Linked DNA regions of Homo sapiens: all the other regions are linked to region 2. The links come from fine-mapping of genetic effects on gene expression. A gene starts in region 2. Each other region holds a variant in brackets. All regions are shown on one strand. Distances are from middle to middle.

Region 1 (8,265 bases), 64 kb before region 2:
GAACAGTGCGATGAACCACCTTGTACTCAGTATCCAGCCTTAGCAATCATCAACTCATAATCAATACTGCCTCATGATGCTCACTTTGGCAGCACATATACTAAAATTGAAATGATACAGAGTTTTGCATGGTCCATGTTAAAAAAAAAAAGCGGGGGGGAAGAATACTGCTTCATGCTTGGCACAGTGGTTCATGCCTGTAATCCCAGCACTTTGGGAGGCTGAGGTGGGAGAATTGCTTGAATCCAGGAGTTCAAGACCAGCCAGGACAACAAAGCAAGACCCTGTCTCTATGATTTTTTTTTCTTTTTTTTTGAGACAGAGTCTCGCTCTGTAGCCCAGGCTGGAGTGCAGTGGTGTGATCTTGGCTCACTGCAAACTCCGCCTCCTGGGTTCACGCCATTCTCCAGCCTCAGCCTCCTGAGTAGCTGGGACTATAGGCACCTGCCACCATGCCCGGCTAATTTTTTGTATTTTTAGTAGAGACGGGGTTTCACCGTGTTAGCCAGGATGGTCTCGATCTCCTGACCTCATGATCAACCCGCCTCGGCCTCCCAAAATGCTGGGATTACAGGCGTGAGCCGCCGTGCCCAGCCTAAAATTTTTTTTTTTAGATTTAGCCTGGTGTGGTGGTGTGCACCTGTAGTCCCAGCTACTTGGGAGGCTGAGGCAGGAGGATCACCTGAGCCTAGGAGTCGGAGGTTGCAGCAGTGAGCTTTCGTGGCATTACTGCTTTCCAGCCTGGGAAACAGTGAGATTGAGACCCTGTCTCAAAGAATACCGCCTCATCTATTCCACCACATTTTTGTCCATTCCAACTACATTATTTTGAAATGAATTCCAGAGAGCTGGACTTTATTGCTTTGTAACTTTCTACTTCTCACTGTACCTTTTCTTTGCCCGTAGTGGAATTGTATGGACAGTGGCTGCCCTAAACCTGAACATTGGTTGCCCCACGTTTATCATTGTGTAGTTGCCTGCCTTCCCGATATCAAATCCCCAAATTTGCATTTTCCAGCCTCCCTTAACTCCACAGCTCAGACACTCAACTTCAGTTTGGAAAGTCAGACCTTCTTGCTGCAAGATTTTGACTAGGACTCGGGCTTGGAGGAAGCGGGAGGGGTTGGGTGCATGCCATCAGGTCAGCTCTGCAATGGCATTCTGGGGGCTGCTCCTGGAAGATGACCCAGGAAAATATTCCTCCCTCTTTTTCCAAGGAGTTTGTGAGTACCCTAACTACATTAATAAAGCCCTTCCTTTACACACTAGCTAGAGAGATTCCACTGACTTTTACCAGATAGCTGGACTGATACAAAAGCTGATCATTCTAACCTTCTGAAGAAGCTGAAGTGGAGAGGTGTACACAAGCACTTCAGTCGCTCAGGAGAAAAATGTTGTGATTTGTATGAATATGATGATTTATTAAGTATGGGTTTATGGGACCACCTTATAGCAGTCGTTTCCAAAATGTAATCCCCCCTGCATCCCCCTCCAGCCCACCAACCAACAGCATCAACATCACCTAGAAACTTCTATAAATTCAGATTCTTGGACCTATTCCCAAGACCTCATGAATCAGAAATTTGGGGGTGGGGCCTACCAATCTGCTTTGTAACAAACCCTAGGTGATTTACATCAGCAAATTCCAGCCTGAGGGCTACATTCTGTGCCCACCGCTTTTTTTGTTTTTCTTTCTGTTTTTGTTTGTTTGTTGCTGTTGTTGTTGTTTTGAGACTGAGTCTTGCTCTGTCACCCAGGCTGGAGTGCAATGACATGGTCTCGACTTACTGCAAACTCTGCCTCCTGGGTTCAAGTGATTCTCCTGCTTCAGCCTCCCAAGGAGATGAGATTACAGGCTTATACTTCCATGCCTGGCTAATTTTTGTATTTTTAGTAGGGACAGAGTTTCACCATGTTGGCCAGGCTGGTCTTGAACCCCTGACCTCAAGTAATCACCTGCCTCAGCCTCCCAAAGTGCTGGGATTACAGGCCTGAGCCACCGCGCCCGGCCCTACCATCTTTTTTTATAAATAAATTTTTACTGGAACACAGCCACACTCATTCATTTATGTATTGCCTCTCTCTGCTTGTGTACTAAACTTGTAGAGTGTCGTGGTTGTGATAAAGACTGTAATGGCCCACAAAGCCTACAGTATTTACTATCTGGCCCTTAACAGAGAAAGTTCAGGGCCCCTAATTTAGATTCACTCTAAGTGATGAGACAGTAAAAGTTAGAGGAGGAGTCAATAAGAATTAAACAGGAATATGTGACGCTAATTTATAACAAAGTATAGCTGTTGGGATTGGTGTCCATAAAATGGTGGTCTTTCCTTAGCTGAGGTCTGTGAGACGCAGAACAGCAGGTTTTTTCTAACTTGTTAATGGCAGTCTCCATGCTGAGGACAAATTTAGCAAACTCTTATATGATCAAGATGCTTTTTTTAAAGTGTGTGCATAAGCATGCATGTGTTGGTTTGTGTGTATCTAGAAGATAATCTCTTGAGCAACCAGGAGGAATCACAGAAAAGAGAATTTTATCCTACTATTAGGAAATAACTCCCGTCCTCTTTCAAGTCCTAATTTGTTTGTCTAGACTGCGGCATTTACCATGAATGCTAAAAAAACAGGGATAGCGGGCCAGGTGTGGTGGCTCACACCTATAATCCCAGAACTTTGGGAGGCCAAGGTGGACAAATTGCTTGAGCCCAGGAGTTCAGGACCAGCCTGGACAAGATGGTGAGACCACCAATGCTACAAAAATACCAAAAATTAGCTGGGCATGGTGGCCTGCACCTGTGGTCCCAGCTACTCAGGAGACTGAGGTGGGAGGATAACTTAAGCCCAGGAGTTTGAGACCAGCCTGGGTAATATGGCAAAACCCCGTCTCTACAAAAAATACAAAAACTAGATGGGTGTGGTGATGTGCACATGTAGTCCCAGCTACTCTGGAGGCTGAGGTGGGAGGATCTCTTGAGCCAGGGAGGTCGAGGCTGCAGCAAGCTGAGATCACGCCACGTCACTCCAGCCTGGGTCACAGTGATACCGTCTCAAAACTAGGCAACCGACCAACCAATTCATTCTGTTTGACCCATAGTTTGACTCTTAAGAATGCATTGTAACAAAATAAGTAAGGATGTGTTCAATATTATAGCAAGAAGCCTGTTGGTTTCAGCACTGTTTATAACAGTAAAAAATGAAAAGCAGCCTAAATGTCCTACCTAATCAAAGTGGTTAACTGTGATAAACACACATTATAGAATATTATGTGGCCATTAACATGATGTTGTAAAAACATACATATTGGCTTGGATAAATACTCATACTGTTGACTGAGCAAGAGTGTCAAACCATTATTCTGTATGTTTTCCTGCAATGGACTTACTATTATGTATACCCATTTATATGCCTACATTATAATCTATAAGTGTACACAGGAAAATTCTCAAAATTTTAACTAGTTTTAAACTAGTTAGTGCTGGGCGGTAGGATTCTGAGTAACTTTGACCTCCTTCTCACCTTCTCATCTTATTTTTTTTTTAAGTTTTTTGAATTTTACTTTAAGTTCCAGGATACATGTGCAGAATGTGCAGGTTTGTTACATAGGTTCATGTGTGCCATGGTGGTTTGCTGCACCCACCAACCCATCATCTAGGTTTTAAGCCCCACATGCATCAGGTATTTGTCCTAATGCTCTCCCTCCCCTTGCCCCCCACCTTCATCTTATTTTTATTTATTTTTAAATTATATTTATTATTTATTTATTTTTGAGATGGAGTTTCACTCCTGTTGCCCAGTCTGGAGTGTAGTGGAGCGATCTTGGCTCACTGCAATCTCCGCCTCCCGGGTTGAAGCCATTTTCCTGCCTCAGCCTCCCTAGTAACTGTGGATTACAGGTGCATGTCACCATATGTGGCTATTTTTTTTTTTTTTTTTTTTTTTGATTTTTAGTAGAGACAGGGTTTCAACATGTTGGCCAGGCTGGTCTCGAACTCCTGACCTTAGGCCCACCTCGGCCTCCTAAAGTGCTGGGATTACAGGCTTGAGCCACTGCACCCTGCCCTTATTTTTATTTTGATTTTTATTTTTTATTTTTATACAGTGATCATGTATTCCTTGTGTAATTATATGTGTTTTAATGCACACGCAGATACAGACATCTTAGTTTGGAGATGTAGCAACACATTTCAATAGATAAATTTAGATCCCCTACTTTCTGCTCAAGTTGACATAAATGTCCTCCCCATGCAGCTGGGTGGGAGCATCAGGCCCCACAAGGGTTTGAGGTTCCCTACTTTCACAGAGAGGGAAAGGGGCAGATTCAGGTAGGGACAACACATTAAGGACCCCTTGCTTCTTCCTCATTTCCTGGGTGGGATGGTCAATCACACCAGTATGCCTGGAAGTGAGGGATTTCCCAGGATACAAGACTTTCAGTACAAATAAGGAAAATCCCAGGCAAACTGGGTCCAGTTGATCATCACATTCCTGGCAGATTTAAAAAGAATGGCATATACGCCTACAGGTGCACAGAGCTACATGTGTGACTCACGCTGCGGTATGTGGTTTCATGAGAAGTTACTTATGAAATCATTGCTGATTTCTGATCCTCATGGCCAGGAAAGGAGACAAAATCAGCAGGGTTGAGGTCAGTTCAAAAAGGAGGCCTTCTAACCCCGAAGAAAGCAGAATCCATTTCAGGAGATAACACCTTCTCTTCTCTGCATTTAACACCAGTGCATGCATTTGTTCTGTGTCTGAGCCTCTGTAAATTAAAAAAAAAAAAAAATTAAAGTGTTTTCTGAATAATTCAGGTCAAATTAGCCATTCACTGACTCAATTTCCCACTTTCTTTGCTGTTAAACATTGAACTATTTAATGTCGCTGAAATTGCATTTACGGTATTCCGTTAGCTCAAGTTGTGCCCATTCTGCTAAAGCTCTCGACATTCTTATTATCATTAAAGAGAAAGAGGAAAGGACCAGGAGTGGCGACCGGCAAACCACAGCTT[G/A]TGTGGGAAGGAAATTTGACATGTGATGCAAGCGGACGTTTGTGTAAACTGCTGGGAGATTAACAGTGAGTATCTCTCTGTGTGTTGCCCATCCACCCATTTATAAGTGGTGGGAGAGATGGCGCAGAGGGGGAGCAATGCCCATTCAGCCAGTGCAAGTTGTGGGCTCAGCTGGCTGCTAGTCAGTCATCCTTTGTTTGAAAGCAGCACACTTCCTTTTCACCAGCTGAGTCAGGAGCTGTTCTCCTGGGTAATTTCAGAGAATCCACCTCATTGCTCACATGCACGTCATTGCCTTTGGATTGTAGCATGCTGGAGGGTTTAACCAGGGAGTTGACAATGAGTGTCTCTGCAGAACAGGCCAAACACATTCCCTGACCAGGTCATGCGGGTGAGTTAATAGGTTCACTACGTGCTCCTCCTACCCTGGAGAGCAGCGTGACGTTAGTTCCTAAGCTGCAGGGTTAGCACGTACAGTGTTATGTGGTGGCCTTGGCTTTAGAGTTAGCCAGACTTAGGGTAGAACTGTGGCTCAACCACTTCCTCACTGTGTGATATTTGGCAAGTTATTCGCCATCACTAAGGCTCGGTTTCCTCAAATAGATTAGGGAAATAACATGGTTCCCGCTTCACTCTCCTCTTTCCTTTTCTTCACTGAGTTTCTCTCACCTGTGCTTCTTTGTTGCCTGTAAAACATATAGGCCAAAGGGAAAGATGATTCTGGCATATTCCAGACCATTCTCACCTTCTTTAATTTATTTAATTTTAAAAATATTTATAAATAGAGATGGGGTCTTGCTGTGTTGCCCAGGCTGGTCTTGAACTACTGGCTTCAAGTGGGCTTCCTGCCTTGGCATCCCAAAGTGCTGGAATTATGGGTGTGAGCTACCACACGCAGCCTGGATCTCTTTCCAGTGGGGAACTTAAGATTCTTCTTCCTTTTCTGAGAATGACTTGGACACAAGGGTTTGCAAAGTATGTTCCATAGACCACTGGTGGTTCACTGTGGTCCCCTAGATGATGCAAACTTCAGAGGGAAGAAAATGCCCTATGAGGAGGAAGCAGAGAGGAGCCCCACTGGCTCTGAGTGGAGACTCCTGGCTCTACCTTCAGAACTCCACTCCTGGTCACCATCAAAGTCCTGCCCGGAGCCCACAGATTCCAATCCTATGCTGTTCTCCCCACCTCTTCTTCACTAGCTGTACAAAATGACGAGGTTTGTGTAGCCGGAGCGATGCCTTGGGTTTTTGTTGTTTCCCACCATTAGGAAAAACAGAGGGATTAGGTGGCAGAGTCCGCTTAGCTTTTCAGTGAAGAAATGAAAGGTGTGGCAGGATGGGTTCAGGTGCATTTTGCTGGTGGGAATGGAAATAAGATTGGGAGGAGGAGGATGTGAATGTGAACAATGAGACAGATTCCCTGAAATTATCCAAGAGAACGGCTCCTGACTCGACCGTTGGCAAAGAGGGTGTGCTACTTGCAAAGCAAGGATGACGGCTGAGATGATATCACATTTGCATTTTTTTGGATTGTCATCAGTCTCATTGTGCCATGTTTCCAATCTGCACGTGTGCGGATGTGCAACCGGGAGACACAGACAGGCACCAAGAGCCAGTAATGAAAATCCCACCTTCTCCTTGTAAGCAAACCTTATCCAAGGACCCAGGACACTTGCTTGACCCAATTATGCAGAAACTCCACTGCTTCTTCCTCCTCCTGATATGCTGTGAGAGAGGAAAGGAAGAGGGGCCGACAGAGAAGGGGTGTGGTGAGCTCAGGTGCATTTTGCTGGTGGGAGGACACCTTGGTGCCAACTTGTTCTGTTTCTCCAGTGATGTAAAAGCCTTTCAAAGTTCTCATTGGTTGACCCAATCATTCTAGTTCTAGGAATCCAGCCAAAGGAAATAATCAGCAATGCAGATGAAGATCTATGTTAAGGGTACTTACTCTAGCTTATTGATTATGGTAAAATATTGGAAAAAAATCTACATGACCAGGAGTGGAAAATGAAGTAGAATACGTTGGAATTACACAGTCTGTGAAGATGATGTTTTAGGAGTATTCGTTTTTAAATGGAAAAAGTTACACATGCACACGGTTAAAAGTTTAAATAGGACAAAAGAGAAGAAATGAGAAAGGAAACTCTCTCTGGGGTCCTCCTCTATAGATAAAACTATGTCCTCAGTTATAGATTGTGCTTTAGAAAAGAAATAGGTGAAACAAGAAAATGGTTTCAAAGTAATAATAAGTGGAGGAAAGACACAAGATCAAAAAACAACAACAACACAATAAAACAATGAACTTTCCAGTATAATTGCAATTTGAGAGGCTTGAGAGGAGAGTAAGACAGAGAAGAAATATTCCAAGCTGTTTCTGAGTGATGAAATTTGGGGTAATATTTATTTTCTGTATTTTATAAACTTTTTATAGTGTGTAATATTACTTTCTAATACTTAGCATTTAAGGAGCTAGAAAATTGCATTTAAGTTCAGAATTCAGCAAGGGACACCAATGATCTTCTGAAAATATTTTTTTCCAAAAATCAACAGTCTTTATATTAACACATATATGTTCCCCTATTTTATTTATGTGTAAGTTTAAAATAATGCTGCAAGTTAATTTTTCAAGAACACCCAGAAATTGCATTTTATCTCCCTGTCGGCCCTTCTTCAGCATCTGACTTAATCACCACATGCAAGAAAGTTAGAAAACAACACCACAAGAAAGAATTCTTGGCCGGGAGCAGTGGCTCACGCCTGTAATCCAAGTACTTTGGGAGGCTGAGGCAGGTGGATCGCTTGAGGTCAGGAGTTCAAGACCAGCCTGGACAACATGGTGAAACCCTGTCTCTACTAAAAATACAAAAATTAGCTGGGTGTGGTGGCATGCACCTGTAATCTCAGTTACTTGGGAGGCTGAGGCAGGAGAATGGCTTGCACCCAGGAGGAGGAGGAGGTTGCATCATAGCACTCTAGCCTGGGCAACAGAGCGAGACTCTGTCTCAAAAAAAAAAAAAGAGTTCTTGCCATTATTTGGTGATATTGTGCTCAAATAAAAATGTTTTGCTTATTTTGCATTTCAATGTCAAACACAGAAGTCTGAACTTTGCCTTTCTATAAATGAATCCATCAGGGAAGATAAATTTGACTGTGGTTCTTAGGTCAAGGTCTAATGTTATGAGAGTTTTCAAAAGAATCCCAAGGGAAAGCATCTGTCTGGTTAGCATATGACAGCACTTAAGAACAAATTATTCCCAG
Region 2 (8,220 bases):
CATGTCAGGCTGGTCTCGAACTCCTGACCTCATGATCTGCTCCCCTCAGCCTCCCACAGTGCTGGGATTATAGGCATGAGCCACCGTGCCCAGCCTTGTTTTTAAACAAGTACGAAAACCAAACAAGAGGCTATATCTGGCATCCCAGTGCCCCCCACTCTACCCATCCTGAAAAATCTGGGTGTGAACTGAGGGAGGAAGGGTTCCTCTTCACAGCTTCCTCCTCAACTGAGTCAGCACAGGTTATCTGCAAGTTCTCTTTGCACTTCCAAGAAGCCTGCAAACCAGCCTCCTACGTGCTTTTTCTGCATGTTAGGAAAAGCCTTGGAAACTCTCAAGATATTGTGGAAACAGCCAAAGCAAAAGGATCAATCAAAGAATCTACACACAGCCCACTAGAGCCAATGTCCCAAGTTCTAATCCCGCAGGCTGAAGAGACTTAGCTGAAGACCTTGGTAGAGTTTCACTGTTTCACCCCAGTGGCATAAATTTGTCCCTGAGATCCCTTTTTATCACCAAGCTGTAAGAACAAGCAGAAGTCCGGCTTGGAGAGGCCAGGCTCTAGTCAGAGCCAGAGCTAATTAAACAATGCTGCTGGCACTTGAAGGAGCCAAACTGCTATTACAAGATTCTTCCATGAAAGGCAAAAGTAAGGTTATGATGGCTCAAGAGTTACCCGCAGGACTACTACCCCAGGGACATTGCACAAGCAACCCCAGTCTAGAATCCCTTCACTTTGTGTGTCACCATAACTGCAGGTGAGGACATTAACCTGTGTGGCCTCAATCTGGGGTATGACTCGACTGTCAGTCACCTTGCCTGTCCCACAGATAGCTTCCAGATTTTATTTACCAGGTCATTCTCCAAGAATCAGCACACCAAAGTGCTGGTTTGGTGTAGGCTTTCCTGAACTGCTCAGGAACTCCCCAGCGGACTGTGACAGGGATGGCTGCCGCCATGCAGAAGTACTCCTAGCAACTGAGATGTGCAAGGTAATATTAAGTTCCTGAAAAGAAGGCACCTGGACAGGTGCTTCTTTTACAAATGACATGAAAATGATCGGTTCCAACACAGGAAGCACCAGGCTGCAGCCCAGCCTCCTCTCCTGACAGACTCTCTGGCTGCTCCAGCTCTGTCCTTTTCCCAGGCCAGGGAATATGAGTCACCAAAGTTGGCCAAGGGGGAAAAAAAAAGAACCAGAAGTTATGGACATACATTTGAACCATGAGAGCAGGACTCAGGATCTGATACCAGTTGCAGGATAGGAATGAGTGTATGAGTGCTGCTCCCAGGTAGGTATGAATTCTCAAACACTTGCTTCCATAGAGATGCCTCAGAGCTCAGGGATCAGTTTCTCTGGTGAGAGACTGGGCCATGCTTGAGGGTAGATTACAGTGTTCATGGCTAAGACAGGGCAAACCCTAACAGATCATGGAGATAGTTTTGCATAAATGCTTTATCTGTTCCACTCATAACACACCTTCTCAAGACAGCTGGCCAAGGTTAGACGGCCATGGTGATAACTATAGACCTGCACAGAAAATAACCCTATGACCTTCACGGTTTCAGGCAGCTGAACTACTGACTTTCTGGCTGTACCTTTCATAGGGAGGAAATCTTTTTTGTATCAGGGCCACGACATTATCCCCTCCATTCTCTTATTCTCTCTCTCTCTTTCTTCTGGTAAGAAAAGACAAAAAGGCCGGGCGTGGTGGCTCACGCCTGTAATCCCAGCACTTTGGGAGGCCGAGGCGGGCGGATCACGAGATCAGGAGATCGAGACCATCCTGGCGAACACGGTGAAACCCCGTCTCTACTAAAAATACAAAAAAAAAAAATTAGCCGGGCGTGGCGGCGGGCGCCTGTAGTCCCAGCTACTCAGGAGGCCGAGGCAGGAGAATGGCGCGAACCCGGGAGGCGGAGCTTGCAGTGAGCCGAGATGGCGCCACTGCAGTCCAGCCTGGGCGACAGAGCGAAACTACGTCTCAAAAAAAAAAAAAAAAGGCAAAAAAAGGCCGGGCGTGGTGGCTCACGCCTGTAATCCCAGCACTTTGGGAGGCCGAGGCGGGCAGATCACGAGGTCAGGAGATCGACACCATCCTGGCTAACACGGTGAAACCCCGTCTCTACTAAAAATACAAATAAAAATTAGCTGGGCGTGGTGGCGGGCGCCTGTAGTCCCAGCTACTCAGGAGGCCGAGGCAGGAGAATGGCGTGAACCCGGGAGGCGGAGCTTACAATGAGCCAGAGATGGCGCCACTGCACTCCAGCCTGGGCGACAGAGCGACACTCCGTCTCAAAACAAACAAACAAAACCAAACAAACAAAAAAATCAGATGCACAAGCAACCCACCAGGAACACTGAAAGCTGCCGAACTGCATTCAGTAAACATTCACAACCAGGTTATAATTTTCATTTTTAAAGACATGGCCATCTACCTCCCTCCAACAATTCTGTGTTCCCTTCCAAAAGGTTTCACTGATCCAGCATGAAGAGAGTGCATGTCTTTCCCCTTTGTACTCAGACCATGGGGGCCTATTCACAGCCTTAAAGGCTCCTTGTACCCCTTGATCCTGTCCCCATCATCCAAAGCATCTTGGAGACTGACATTTGTGAATACAGTTGCATATTCTAGGAAAGAGGCAAGTTCAAATGACACAGCCCCTGCCGTCTAAAAACGTACGAGGGAAAACAGAGTACTAGGCTAAGAATGCCCGCACCTTGCTTTGCTACTTGAGCGAGTCACTCAGCTGCTCTGGGCTTGAGGTCCCCTCCAAGGTCCCTGCTGGCCCTGACATTGTATGTTGCGACCCACCCCTGGTGCCGCTTCTCTTCCCACTAACTTTTTTTCCTAAATACCTCAACTGTACTTTTGTGTAAGTCCTCCAGCTGTCTTCACTTTAGTTTTGGCTCCTGGACAACTCTGCCCAAGGAAACATTTCCTCCTCTCCTCCTCTTCCTCCCAGACCAAAGCTCTAATTGTCTCTTCTGCTGCACCCTGGGTCTCCCAGGCAGGCCCCCGCCACTCAGACCACAGGTTCCAACACCTTCCAAGTCTCCAAGTTCCCAAGTCCAGTCTTTCCTCTGTTTTCTCCTCTTTTTCAGAAAACAGTGCTCTGACAGGCCCCAAATCTTCCAGTAAGTCATTACCGGCCCCCACTCCCTCTTTTGCAGCTACTGTGCCTTCCACACCCCTTTTTCTGGATTCCAAAGAGACGCAGGAGCAGGCCAGTGCTCTCCAGGCTGGAGGATCCCACAAGTTACTCTCCGACTCTGTCCCCTCCGTCCAGTTTGACCAGGGCTGCACTCCGCCCCCAACCTCCCTACAAGCCTCCTTGGCCTCGCGCCGCACCCACCTTTTGGGCCGCGGAGAAGCCCCCTCCCCAGCTCGCTCGCCGCATCGGAGAGCCCGCAGGGTTGTGGCAAGCGCGACTACGTGAGCGTCGGTGTGTCCGGGAGGCAGGGCCTGGGCTGGGTTCCCGGAGATGTCGGCGGTGGGAGGAAGACGACGAGGAGGAGGAGCCCGTTATCGCACCCGGGCGGGGCCGGCAAAGGGGCAACCCCGGCCGGAGCAAGCAGCGCGACACCAGCACCCCCGCGCGGCCGCCTGGCCTCCGCCAGCCCGGGACGGGGATCGTGCTAGGTCCCGTCGCCCTCGGTGGCCTGAGAGCCTACCAAGTGTATTTCCTCGCGTTTTATAGGGAAAATAAGGCCCGGAGAGAGACGAAGCGGCTTGTCCTTAAGCTCCAAACCCCACTACCCAACTTTGGAGAAGTCTCCAGACCTCTCGGGACCCGGGGCTGGGAACTTGTGCTAGTTTCGAAGCCAGAACAACAGGTGGTAAAGGGATCAGCCGCCGCAGCCGCAGCTCCCGGGTCACGGTCGCAGCCGGGCCCAGCAGCGCGGTGGAGCACGTGGGCCCGGGAGGCGCTTCCCAGCTGCGGTCCCTGGATCGCCCTCTCCACGCTGAAGCAACAGCTCCCTGGGGCCAGCTACCTAGAGTGTTCCAGCCCCGGTGTGCCAGTGCAAGTCGCACGGTGAAAATGTAGGTGACAGGAACCCAAAGAGGTCCCCGCTGCACGCCCTCGCCTTGTTGTCCCCAGCCCTTCCCTCGGACTCGAGACTTGGGGAGCTACGTACCGGGTTCAGCTCATAAGTCCCGAGGGCAGACGCGCCAGCCCGCGGCAGCATACGCCCTGGGGGAACAGGGACAGCTGCCGTGACGGCAGGAGCTGGGCCCGGGCTCGGGTTCGCGCCCCCCGCGGGCGGCGAAGTCCGTCCGTGCACGAGAGCTGCGCGGTCACCTCCTCCCTCCAGCAGTCACCCGGGACTCGAGCTCCCCGCGGCCGCGCTGCCCCCTTTAACTTTCCTGCCAGCTCTCGGGACCCCGGGGTCCATCCCAGGCCCCCTGCCACGTGAACGCCCCCCGCAGCCAATGGGCGCGCCCGGGACTCCAGCCGCCGACCAATGGGCGCGCAGCCACGGCGCTGGGGAGCACCGCTTCGCCACGTGATCGGCAGCGCGCCCGGAGTGATCCGGCTGCGGGCCAGGGTCTGGGAAGGGGGTGGTGGGTCGCCGTTTCATCAGAAGCCGGAGGACGGGCGCCAGGGGGCAACTTCCTACAGGAGGGCGTCCCGTTAGAATGACAGGGCTTTTGCAAAAGTCTGACACCCGTGGCACAGAGCGCCCCAGATATGGAGGGTTTCACAGGTAGGTATACTTCAGAAGAAATTTCCTGACTTGAATCGGTTATAATCGCTATCTAAATCTACAGGGCCTCCGCGATGCATATTATGCACCTTGAGATCTATAGAAAATGGTCTTAGAAAAAGAAAAAAATGATGACCTTAAAGAGTTTGAATCAGAGGCTCTTCCTTTCTTCAGTTTACATGTAACTTGATCTGAACTAGCCACTTTAGGCATGAGGCTACCAGTTTTCTAATTTTAATGACCAGTAGAGTTTTAGAAAAAAATTAGAAATTGATATAGGATTGCCAACTTTTTAAACTGCCAAGAAAGACATGAAAATAAACCCTGCTGTCTTCTATTACTATCCTTTTATTTTTATTTTTTAAAGTACACTTTAATAGCAATAACAACGAAATGCAGGAAGGATGTAATGGCCAGTCTTTCCCATTGGATATATTTAGCTTTCTGAAAACTCATTATGTTGAATATGGCATTTGGGAGTTTCTACTGTAAGGGATACAGGCTCAGCTTCAATTTTACTAGGAATGCAAGCCTAAAACAGTGATCGGTGACAATAATCCAATACAAGCCTTTAGCTCTATAGAGAGCTTCCCCGGAGGGAGTCCTGGTGTCTGAAGAATGATCATTAATCTTCTTCCTTCTTTTCTGATGGGCAGATCTGATAAGGGACCACTTGTGAAGTCAGCTATTGGTAGGTGGTTGGCAAATAGCGTTTCTGTGCAATATTCCCTCTGCCAACTTTAAACCCTCTCTTGTTAGGTGATGAGTAGGTTGAAGATTTTTAAGCCAAGTACTGGCTAAGTTTCTCAGGTGTAGTGAGCATGCTGGAGGAGTGGGCAAAGATGAAGAGCCAAGAGGTATTGCAAAACATATGCAGGCAAAGGGTAATCCGAACCACACCGGGAAAGAGTTGGGACAAGTAAATACAGCTTTGTAGCATTAGGGTTTGGGAGCATTTTTCTTGCATAGATCTAGGAAACCATGGTCAATAATTTCCCCTGTGGTTTAGATGACTTTTTCAGACCAGGAGAGAGGGGTTAAACTTAGTTGTGGTACACCACAGCCTTAGTAGGTAGGAGGGTGTCATCTATGAGTTTGAAAAGAGCACAGTCTTTGCCATCAGGATAGAGCTGAGATGCAAGCTCAGAGGAGGGCTTTACCAGGAGACCCAGCAGTGCAGAGCTCCAGAGCCTGAGAGCTGGACCCACCCTCAGACACGATCTTGCCTCACCCTCTCATTTTATGGCAACAAAGAGAGAAAGTGAAAATGGAAAATTTCAATGCTTACTGCATCAGTCAATGCACACCAAGTTCTTTCTATTATATCTGGCATTGGGTTACAGCTTTAATTTTATTTAACAACCCTCCTCCCCCAACCAAAAAAAAAAAAAAAAATGAAACCAGAAAACAGCAGTGGCTAAGCATAGTAAATTATTATTCTTCCATAAACTGTTCTTTTTCTTTTTTTTTAATTTATTTATTTATTTTTTTAATTTATTTATTTTTTATTGATAATTCTTGGGTGTTTCTCACAGAGGGGGATTTGGCAGGGTCATAGGACAATAGTGGAGGGAAGGTCAGCAGATAAACAAGTGAACAAAGGTCTCTGGTTTTCCTAGGCAGAGGACCCTGCGGCCTTCCGCAGTGTTTGTGTCCCTGGGTACTTGAGATTAGGGAGTGGCGATGACTCTTAACGAGCATGCTGCCTTCAAGCATCTGTTTAACAAAGCACATCTTGCACCGCCCTTAATCCATTTAACCCTGAGTGGACACAGCACATGTTTCAGAGAGCACAGGGTTGGGGGTAAGGTCACAGATCAACAGGATCCCACGGCAGAAGAAGTTTTCTTAGTACAGAACAAAATGAGAAGTCTCCCATGTCTACTTCTTTCCACACAGACACGGCAGCCATCCGATTTCTCAATCTTTTCCCCACCTTTCCCGCCTTTCTATTCCACAAAGCCGCCATTGTCATCCTGGCCCGTTCTCAATGAGCTGTTGGGCACACCTCCCAGACGGGGTGGTGGCCGGGCAGAGGGGCTCCTCACTTCCCAGTAGGGGCGGCCGGGCAGAGGTGCCCCTCACCTCCCGGACGGGGCGGCTGCCGGGAGGAGACGCTCCTCACTTCCCAGACTGGGTGGCTGTCGGGCGGAGAGGCTCCTCACTTCTCAGACGGGGCGGCTGCCGGGCGGAGGGGCTCCTCACTTCTCAGACGGGGCGGTTGCCAGGCAGAGGGGCTCCTCACTTCTCAGACGGGGCAGCCGGGCAGAGATGCTCCTCACCTCCCAGACAGGGTCGCAGCCGGGCAGAGGTGCTCCTCACATCCCAGACGGGGCGGCGGGGCAGAGGCGCTCCCCACATCTCAGACGATGGGCGGCAGGGCAGAGACTCTCCTCACTTCCTAGATGTGATGGCGGCCGGGAAGAGGTGCTCCTCACTTCCTAGGTGGGATGGCGGCCGGGCGGAGACGCTCCTCACTTTCCAGACTGGGCAGCCAGGCAGAGGGGCTCCTCACATCCCAGACGATGGGCGGCCAGGCAGAGACGCTCCTCACTTCCCAGACGGGGTGGCGGCCGGGCAGAGGCTGCAATCTCGGCACTTTGGGAGGCCAAGGCAGGCGGCTGGGAGGTGGAGGTTGTAGCGAGCCGAGATCACGCCACTGCACTCCAGCCTGGGCACCATTGAGCACTGAGTGAACGAGACTCCGTCTGCAATCCCGGCACCTCGGGAGGCCAAGGCTGGCGGATCACTTGCGGTCAGGGGCTGGAGACCGGCCCGGCCAACACAGCGAAACCCCGTCTCCACCAAAACCAGTCAGGCGTGGAGGCGCGAGCTTGCAATTGCAGGCACTCGGCAGGCTGAGCCAGGAGAATCAGGCAGGGAGGTTGCAGTGAGCCGAGATGGCAGCAGTACAGTCCAGCTTCGGCTCAGCATGAGAGGGAGACCGTGGAAAGAGAGGGAGACGGGAGAGGGGGAGGGGGAGGGGGAGAAACTGTTCTTTTTCATGGCTGTTAGTGGTAGCACTGTCCATCTTTTTCCTTGCATTTAGGCTCATGTGTGGCTTCTTCAGTCCTCTCTTCATTCACTCATGTATTCATTTATTCAACGACATATTACTAAGGAACCTCCTTAAGCCGGGATGCTGAACGTGGAAAAATAGGTGAAATATAATTTTACCCCTGAGAAGCTCATAGGCTAAAAAAAATATTGATTTGGGATAAATGTATGTTAAGGTAAGTCTCTGTGTTAGGGGAGTTAAGAGGAAGACCTTGTGTGTTTAGCAGCAGAGTTGGGGGGGGAATGGGGATGACCAGAGGCTGATCCTATAGATGTGATCATTGGGATCCTGGAGGAGGAGTTAGAGTTAAAGGGTCATGTCAGGGAACATGGCAGGAATTGGCAAAGACGCAGAGTTCGGTAAGTACCCAGAGAATTTCCACTGTGCTGATTAAAAGTTAGGTCCTCTTTCTGGCTTAAATATTAAACAGTGTTCCTTTATACATGTGTTC
Region 3 (8,000 bases), 750 kb after region 2:
ACCGAGGTTGCAGTGAGCCGAGATCATGCCACTGCATTCCAGCCTGGGCAACAGAGCCAGACTCCATCTCAAAAACAAACAAACGAGCAAACAAAAAAAGAAAAGAAAAGAAAAGAAAAGAAACTCCATGCCTCTGGACAAGCTAGGCAGGGGCTGAGGATAGAAGATGAACCAGAAACACTGTTAGCCCCCTCCTTTCCTAGGACGCCACTCTAACTAGCCTTTGCCCAGGAGGCCTTCATGCCTAATTGTAGCTTTCAACAGGAAAAGCAGGACAGCTGCTGCTAATTTAATTACATCCAATTTGGGTGGTATTTATTGAGCCTTCTGCGTAAGGCACCTTCTTAACAATGTCCCAGCCCTCCACCACAGTCACCACCCACCTCCCCCCTACGACAAATCTGACCATAGGATTTCCAGGCGGAGAAGAAAACCTCCCACCTCGGGCTTCATCTGTAGGGGCCGCAGTCCAAGCCAGCGGCTCTGACGTTTTGTTTTCTCTGCATTCGGTTCTGATGCCGACACTGCGCAGGTTGTTACGGAACTGCTAGAGATAAGTGTGAGGGCACATTAAGGCATGGGAGGCATTCTTTCCAAGGGGGGAAGGAGAGGAAGCAGACAAAGAAGGGCCTCTGCTGTCGTTAGGATTCTCACTTGTATGTTTCTGTTTCCAGAGCACCAGTGATGGGAAGTGTTTGCTTCTGTGAACTCAAGGCACAAAAAACCAAGGCAAAAGAACACTTTTTAAAGGCTCTCGCCCCCAGTTGCATCAGCTCCATCAAGCAGGGTTGCGCAGTGCAAGGCTGGAATGGTTTCCAGGGCCTCTGTGGGGGACGAGGGGAGAGCTGCCCTCCTCATCTCTGAAAATAGTGCTTTTTCAAGTTTCCCTCCTTGAAATGTGGAATGACATCCTCCAAGCACCCTGTTTGAATCTATGGTGTTATGTATATGTGGTGGCTTTAAGACAGTCTCGGAGGGGCTCCTAGGGAGGTGGGGAGGGGAGCCCTGATGCCGGGGCACCTTGCTTGCTTTTGATGGAAAACTGCTCTCCAAAAATGGCTCCAGAGAAAGCAAATCTTAGGATAGTGAAGCGAGAGTGGAGAAGCTTAGATTCCTTTTTAAATGGAAATTATGTCCACTGCAAAGAAGACATTTCCCTCAAAAGGGGGAAAACGTCTTAAAGACACCTCCGCCAGCTCAGCTAGCGCTGGGACACAAGCAAAATGCCTGACGGGCCGGTAAATCATCTTGGGAGGACAGAGTTTGAATAGAGGGGAAGGCAGAAAAGCAGAAGCCCGGCATAGTGTGAGCTGATTCCAGCAAAGGCTGAGAGCAGCAAGGGGCCTGGGCTATGGGATACATAATTGGCTAACGAATAATAAAGCCAAAATTGGATATTAACAGCAATTAATTTCTGTAGAGGCACTGGGGAAAAGAGCTGCAGAAAACCCCATTGGGCCTTAAGCCGAAGCAATCTGAAATTAAACCAGTGTCTCAATTAAATGGGAATAAATATTGCCACATCAATCTGTGTAGAGTGGGAGGGGGCTGACAGAAGCCCCCCGTGCAGCTCAGGGCACCTTTCTGCACGTCCGAAGCTCTCGGTGGCACAGCCTCAGTCAGGCACATCCTGGTCCTGACCTGTGGCCTGTAGAGGCCACCCGGCCCATGACCTTGAGGCCAGGGCTCTGAAAGTTATTTCAGGGGACGGCCTGTTGACCCAAAGGGACCTTGCATCACTCACTGCACGCTGATGGACCCAACAGATGAGGAAATGGAAGGAATTGAGTTTTTTTTGCAAACAGAGACCGCGTCCTAATGGCAGCAGCGGTTGCATTTGCAAGGAGATTCATGGAGACAGAAAGAGCCTTCTGCGCCTTCCTTCCAACCGACTTCGAGCGGCTCCGTCCCCTCCGGCTTCGGATCTGGAACTAACGCTGACTAAGGCCGAAGGAGGAATGTGTCTTTTTCTTTGTGGGTTGAAGATTTTTGTTGTGGTTTTGGCTTCTGTGGAGAGGGTTGCGGGGGTGGGGAAGGACGGTGTTTGGGGATGGCGAGGACACGTCTCTGGGTCCTGGGGGAAGATGCCCGCTCCCTGGCCGGGTCACTGGGGGTATCCGGGAGAGGAGGCTGGATGTATGGGCGGGGCGTCCTAATGGGGAATCCAGGAGGATGCACTGAGACGGACCCCCCACTCCAGCAAATAAAACCCAACCCCCAAGCGCTTTCGCGGCGGGGTCCTCTTCCCAGGCTGCACCTGCCAGCCCCTCTTTCTTGCAAGTTCTGAGGCTTTCCGGGATGCACGGTGGGGTCCTCGAGGCCGCAGGTACTGAAGTGGATCAGAGAGAGGCCCGGAGCCGCACTGCGGGCGCCGGGCGCACAGGCTGACCGGCTGCACGGCCGGGAGGGCGCGGCTTCTAGGCCCAGGCCTGCGGCTGGGGAGCGCTGTGGGTGGCCAGGGGAGGACGTGACCTCCCGCCCAGGCCTTCGGTCTGGCTCGGCCACCCTTGGAAGCAAAGGATGTACCCTCGTCTCAATTCGTCCCGCTTCCTGCCCCCGACTCCGGAAAAATCTCTAACGTTGACCGTCGAGTGTCCATCTGGCGCTAGAGTGAAATCGATGTGCATGGAAAATGGAAAAATGACCTCTCCGGGGACAGTCCCTGGCGTTTGTAGCCCTGACCTCTTCGCCTCCCCCTCGCCTTAGAACTTGGGCTTGGGGCTCATCCTAGAAAGACCCTGAGACTAACCCGCATCTACCCACACCTCGGATGGATCCAAAGCTTTGGGAACTGCAGGAGGACCCGAATCTTAGGAGTTCCAGGTCTGCATGATTCGGGAGAGAGAGAGAAAGGGAAAAAAAAAATCAAGACTGGGAAATGGGAGCAAAAAAGAAAAGGGAAACCAGCGCCTGCTCATCTTCTCCTTGCTTCATGGAGAAGTCTCGGGTGCATTCGAAGAGAAAGAGACGAGAATGCCTCTTGCGTGCTGGGAAGCGAGTCACTTGAGAAGCCCTGGGCGCGGTCCCGGCCGACGGGGCCCGAAATGGGGCCCGCGCCCACAGTCGCGGAGCCGCAAGTTGCCGCAGAACCGCCCTGGGAACATCACGCGAAGTTGCAACATGCACTTGCAGCGGAAGTATTGCCTCTTGGACCCCAGGTCTCAGTATTTTGTGTGTGCTTAAGCAACAAATAGGTTGGATTTGAATTTCAAAAGAACCCTCCCACTGTAATTTTGAGAGAGAAAGCCCTTAGTGATTCTGGAAGTTTGTTTTCTGGGCTTCCCGGCCCCTGACCCAGGCCCTCAGGTCTTGGTAGCGTTTCTATTTTAAGACAAAAGGGAGAAGGACAGGAAATAAAAAGATGAACCTATTGAGAGTTGCTGACACTTTTATTTCTGACCTGGAACATTCCTTGCCCTCAATAAGGCCTG[AT/A]TTTTTTTTTTTTTTTTTTTTTTTTGAGGCCATCTAAATTTGGTGCTGGAAGATCATTCCAGACCTTCTACACAGCTCTATAAGGCAAAAAGCCGCACACATTGCCTCCCATAAATTCCGTTTGAAGTCCTTTCTTCTATGTCTACATTTGTGATGCAATTAAGTATTGAATACATTTTCTTTAAAAAAAAAAAAAAAGCTGAGATGAGATTGAGAAAGACTTGGCAAAACACCCAATGAAAGAATTGTAGATGGGACTTGGGAAAAAAAGTCTTTATTAGGTACCATCATTCTCATTCTTGTTATTATTGACATCCTCGTCACTGTGAATCAGCCAGCCCAGCCTCCAACACACATACCACCAGCACAACTCCTCATGTTGACTCGTGGGCCCTGAAACCACCCACAGAGTAGATGAGGAAAGGGAGGCTCCATCTGTCCTAGGGAGAACGCTTTGCAGCTGCCCCCAGAAGACTCCATTCTAAGGTTGGAATGGGAGGAGGATATTATGTAAGTTCAAGAGGAGGAAAGAGAAAATGTTTTCTCTGTGGAAGCAGCATAGATGGATGGACTTTTGGTGGCTAAATGCCTTCCTCTAAATGCTAGCATTGGATACGGTTATGCGGGAAAATATATGTGTGCATATGGGCACACCCCTCCTCCGAATATCTCTCTGGCAAAAGCTCCTCATACATTCACAAAAGCCGCCCCCCTCCCTTTGGTAACAGAAGTAACTTACAGGAGTTTACCTTTGCCTCTGCTAGAAGGTCAATCTCTTTTCCGCTTAAGAGGAGATCTGGGCTGTTTCTGGCAGGGGAAAGAAGAGTATCACCAATTTTTCCTTTGACACATTTCTAAATCTGGAAGTATCTGGTAGAGTTACCTCAAGAATCATATAAGCTTGCATCACGATGGGGACTGTGATGGCAGTGGTGCATATGAGCCCATCAGGTCCTTCTTCGCGTATTCAGTCAGCAAACTGCCTCAACCGTGTCCTACTTTTTCTTAAGCATATAATTCCCCTTTCATTTAAGCCAGACTGTAGCTAGAGGGGCTCAAATAGGTAAGAGAGAAGATACTAAAGAGTTAAATGCACTCAAAGGGGAGAACTATTCAGATTTCTTATAAAATTACTGGTGGCATAAATAGGCCCCAAATACAGAAGGGAAGGGCTGACCTTCACTCGGACACCTCATTTGAGCACAGAAGGGGCCTGGCAATTACACATGGGGCCAAGTGGTCTATTCATCTCTTTGCCATTTTCAGCCATTAAAGCCCTACATAAACATACATTTCATAATGAGACCCACCCGGTGGACACAGGCAAATGCCCACACCCATGCGCACAGACCTAATAGACCCAGAACACTCCCACACACATTAAAGCTTTCTGGAACAAGAGTTTACATAAGTAATGAAGTAAAAAATATGCCCCTCCCATCATAGATTATCTGCAGCAGAAACCTGGCAGGCGTCAGCCATGGTACCTGTGGTTTAAGCTCTCAGCTTAAAGCATCTGAAAGGGGCATTACGTGGGAAGGCATCTGGAGGTTTTACAGGAGGGCAGCACATCAGCGAAGGGTACAGCAACCTCTGAAGGAATTACGGGGAAGCAGTTACTAAAAAGAGGCTCGTCAATGTGGACGTTTGTGGGGCAAGGGGTTTAGTAATCGGAGGCTTAAACCATGCCTAAGAGAAGCATCCAGCGGCCTTCACAGTGAGCAGAAGGGGCAGAGCAAGGCGCTTCACACCCCAATAAGGCCCAGCACTGACTGCTTTCTTCTTCCCAAACCTGTCCAGAAAGGGCGGAGGGGACACCAGGACTCAGAAAGCTACTGGTTTCGGGGGAGGTATATTTTGAAGGCAACGGCAAATAGACAAGGGCTTGTGAAGGCTCAGGGGTGAGAGAAGCTGTTCTCCCTTTCTGTCCTGCAGCCAAGCTTGCCTTCTGGGACTCCAGAGGCAGCCCAGCACCTGCAGTCTGCAGGATGTGCACTGCAGCTTTCTCTCTGCGGGGGCAAGCAGGTTGTGCCACATTCTGCAGACCCAGAGAAGGTTCTGGAAGTATCTAGGTGAGGTGCAACACACTTAACCTCTGCCTGACTCTAAACACTGCTTTAGGAGGGCAAATGAAGAGCCTAAGAGTTAATAATTACACAAGGATTGCACACAGTAGGTACTTAATAAATATTTGGGGAAACTGAGGCCGGGGAGGGGCCCTGATCCAAGGCATCACTGAATACTAATTTATTTAGCAGGCTAGACTGAGGCTTTGGAGAGGAAAGAAGTCCTCAGTAAGCTTCAGTGGAGACTCTTAGGGCTTGATTATTGTGTCAGGAATCAAATTAATCTCCTAAGCATCCCTTATGGCCTTGGCCTTGCAAAGCCAGGCCTCTGCCATGCTCGGGGGAAGGGATGCAGCAGGCTTCCTGGGCAGAAGGATCCAGCTCTTGGCCTCCTTTCTCTGCTCCTCCCTCTACTGCAGGGACCTGCCCCTCCTCCATTTCCTCCACCTGGAAATTAATGAGCTTAGGTCTTGCCCCATCCGCTGCAGCTTGGTGGTTAATACAGAGCTGGAAATGGGATGAGACTGTGGCAGCGCAGTACGAGGGGGGTCTCTAGGACCAGCTGCTGCTCAGGGTCTAGTGATGGGAGGAAGGCCTGATTTGGGAAGCAGGTTCTTCAGGATGAAAAGCTTAACCCTTTCCATTCCCTGACAGCCTCTTTCAAAACAGTCTTTCCTCAGACCCCCAGTTGCACACATTCTGTTTTTCCTTCTGTTCACATTTTTAAAGGAACACATGTCTCCCTTGGGTCCATGTAGGTTATTGTGCCTCTCCCTTCCTCTGCAGCTCCTGGATCTCTGCCTGAAACTGCAATAACAGCTACAGGGAGGGCGTGAGGTGCTCCTTAGAGCCATGACCACGCTTTCAACTCCGATAGAGCTTGTGAACCCGCTGGGAGCTGGCTCCTTCTTGTCCACATAGCCCAACGACTTCCTTAAGCTTGTCAGGTGCTCTCAGCTCTACAGCAAAGTGTGACAAACAGCTCCCCCTCTCCCTTCCTACCGCCTGCCCTCCTCCCCAAACCTCAAGCAGAACACAATATATCCGCAGTCCAGGCCCTGAGGCAGTCTGCCAGTCTCTGGATGCCAAATTATTATTTTTTTAAGGGCAAACCAAAAAACTCAGCTCAGAACAAAAACACAGTCACGGAGGAAGGTGTTGACCCACATACAATGAGTCCTGAGCCCAGAGAAAAATCTGCACACACAAGCACTCCGCAATGCGCTCCCAGGCGACCCCCTCCCCACGCACACCGCATCTGTGCTGCACAGATCTGCTTCTGTCACAGAATCAGCTTCTGTTTCTCTCCCTGAGTCTGTTTGCATCTCTAAGCCCCTGTCTGTCACAGGCTGCACACCTCCCCACCCCACGGGCTCCGGTGCGGGACAGGCAGCCGGAGGGAGCTCCAGACCCCTCCCCTCGCGCCCGCGGCCGCTGCGCGGAGGTCTGCGGAGGGCGCCTGGCTCGGTCGGTCGCTCCTTCCTTGGCGGGCCCTCGCCGACCCACGGTGCTCAGCCAGCCCCATTCTTGGCATTCACCGCGTGCCTTAATTGTATGGACATTTAAATCAAGGTCCGCTGTGAACACGGAGAGAGAGGCCTTTCTCCTGAGGAAGGAAAGGAGGAAGGAAGGAAGGAAAGGTGAAAGAAAGGAAGAGGGGTGGGTAGAAGATGGAATAAGAAAACCAGGAAAAAGAAATAAAAAGCGGCGCGTGTGCGTGCGCACTGACAGCGGGGAGAGGGATGGGGGTGGGGAACGCCGGAGGAAGGGACCACAGCATCCTCCCCGCCGCAGCTCCCCCAATCACACAGACAATGAGATAACAGCGACGTCTTCCAAAGGCTCTTTGTTCTCCCCCATCCTTTCGCATCCAGGCTTTTTCCTGCAAAGCGGAGGGGGTGGAGGGATGGGGGTGTGGGTGGAAGTGGGAGACGGAGGGGTGCCTCCCCCGTGTTAATTACCCCGGCTCCCCTCGCCCCTTTCCCCGCGCCTCGCCTCCCCTGCAGCTCCAGACAATGAAAAAACAACATCGACCCCACCTCGCCCCAGCGCAGCAACCCACCCACCCATGTCGCCCTCTGCTTCGCCCAGGAAACTGAAGGGGACTAGGAGGAGGAAGAAGAGAGCGAAGGACAAGGAGAGCAGCGGGGACTCGGCAGCGGCAGCCGGGGCAGGGCGCGCGGCCGCCGCCTCTTTACCTCCATCGCTGAGTGGGGGCGCAGCCGGGCCGGGCGTGCCGCAGGGGCGAGTTGCCGCGGTCCGGGGCTGGGACCTGGGGATTCAGCCTTCCGGAACTCGCCTGCTGCAGTCCTCTCGCTCAGGTCCCAAGTGGTGGAGGGGGGAAAGGAAGAGAGACGAGAGAGAGAGAGACAGAGAGAGAGAGAGAGAGAGGAAGAAGAAGAAGAAGAAGAAAAAAAAACCATAAGAGCGAGGCCCATCTGGCCCCTCATCAGCTTTGTCAAGTCTTGCATACGCTAAAATGCTAATGACCTAGATAGCTCA

Direction of the effects. Positions count from the first base shown, and alleles are read on the strand shown. Sizes are in standard deviations (SD) of each study's normalised expression. Not every link is listed here.
In carriers of allele AT in region 3, the expression in subcutaneous fat of the gene that starts at base 3,453 in region 2 tends to be higher than with A alone (large effect, 0.79 SD a copy in FUSION).

The links.
Region 1: its variant is fine-mapped to the expression of PPP1R3B in whole blood (TOPMed, PIP above 0.99).
Region 3: its variant is fine-mapped to the expression of PPP1R3B in subcutaneous fat (FUSION, PIP 0.95).

Annotation. Positions count from the first base shown.
Region 1 is chr8:9,083,497-9,091,761 of GRCh38, forward strand. It overlaps a transcript of ERI1 not described here. Among named protein-coding and RNA genes, the nearest start is that of SNORD3I, 29 kb to the left of the region's middle. The variant G/A (reference allele first, on the strand shown) is at 5,009.
Region 2 is chr8:9,147,206-9,155,425 of GRCh38, forward strand. It overlaps PPP1R3B (protein phosphatase 1 regulatory subunit 3B), which reads right to left and starts at 3,453. Exons shown (of 2, transcript NM_024607.4): 1 at 3,358-3,453. It overlaps PPP1R3B-DT (PPP1R3B divergent transcript), which reads left to right and starts at 4,520. Exons shown (of 5, transcript NR_183348.1): 1 at 4,520-4,711. RefSeq lists enhancers at 2,853-3,801, 3,848-4,087 and silencers at 3,438-3,707, 4,208-4,457.
Region 3 is chr8:9,896,374-9,904,373 of GRCh38, forward strand. MIR124-1HG (MIR124-1 host gene) reads right to left here and starts at 6,956. Exons shown (of 3, transcript NR_024281.1): 1 at 4,316-6,956; 2 at 4,182-4,239; 3 at 3,691-3,913. MIR124-1 (microRNA 124-1) reads right to left here and starts at 7,099; the gene lies at 7,015-7,099. It overlaps LOC124902057 (a long non-coding RNA gene), which reads right to left. Exons shown (of 4, transcript XR_007061170.1): 4 at 7,697-7,814. RefSeq lists enhancers at 42-924, 925-1,806. The variant AT/A (reference allele first, on the strand shown) is at 3,432.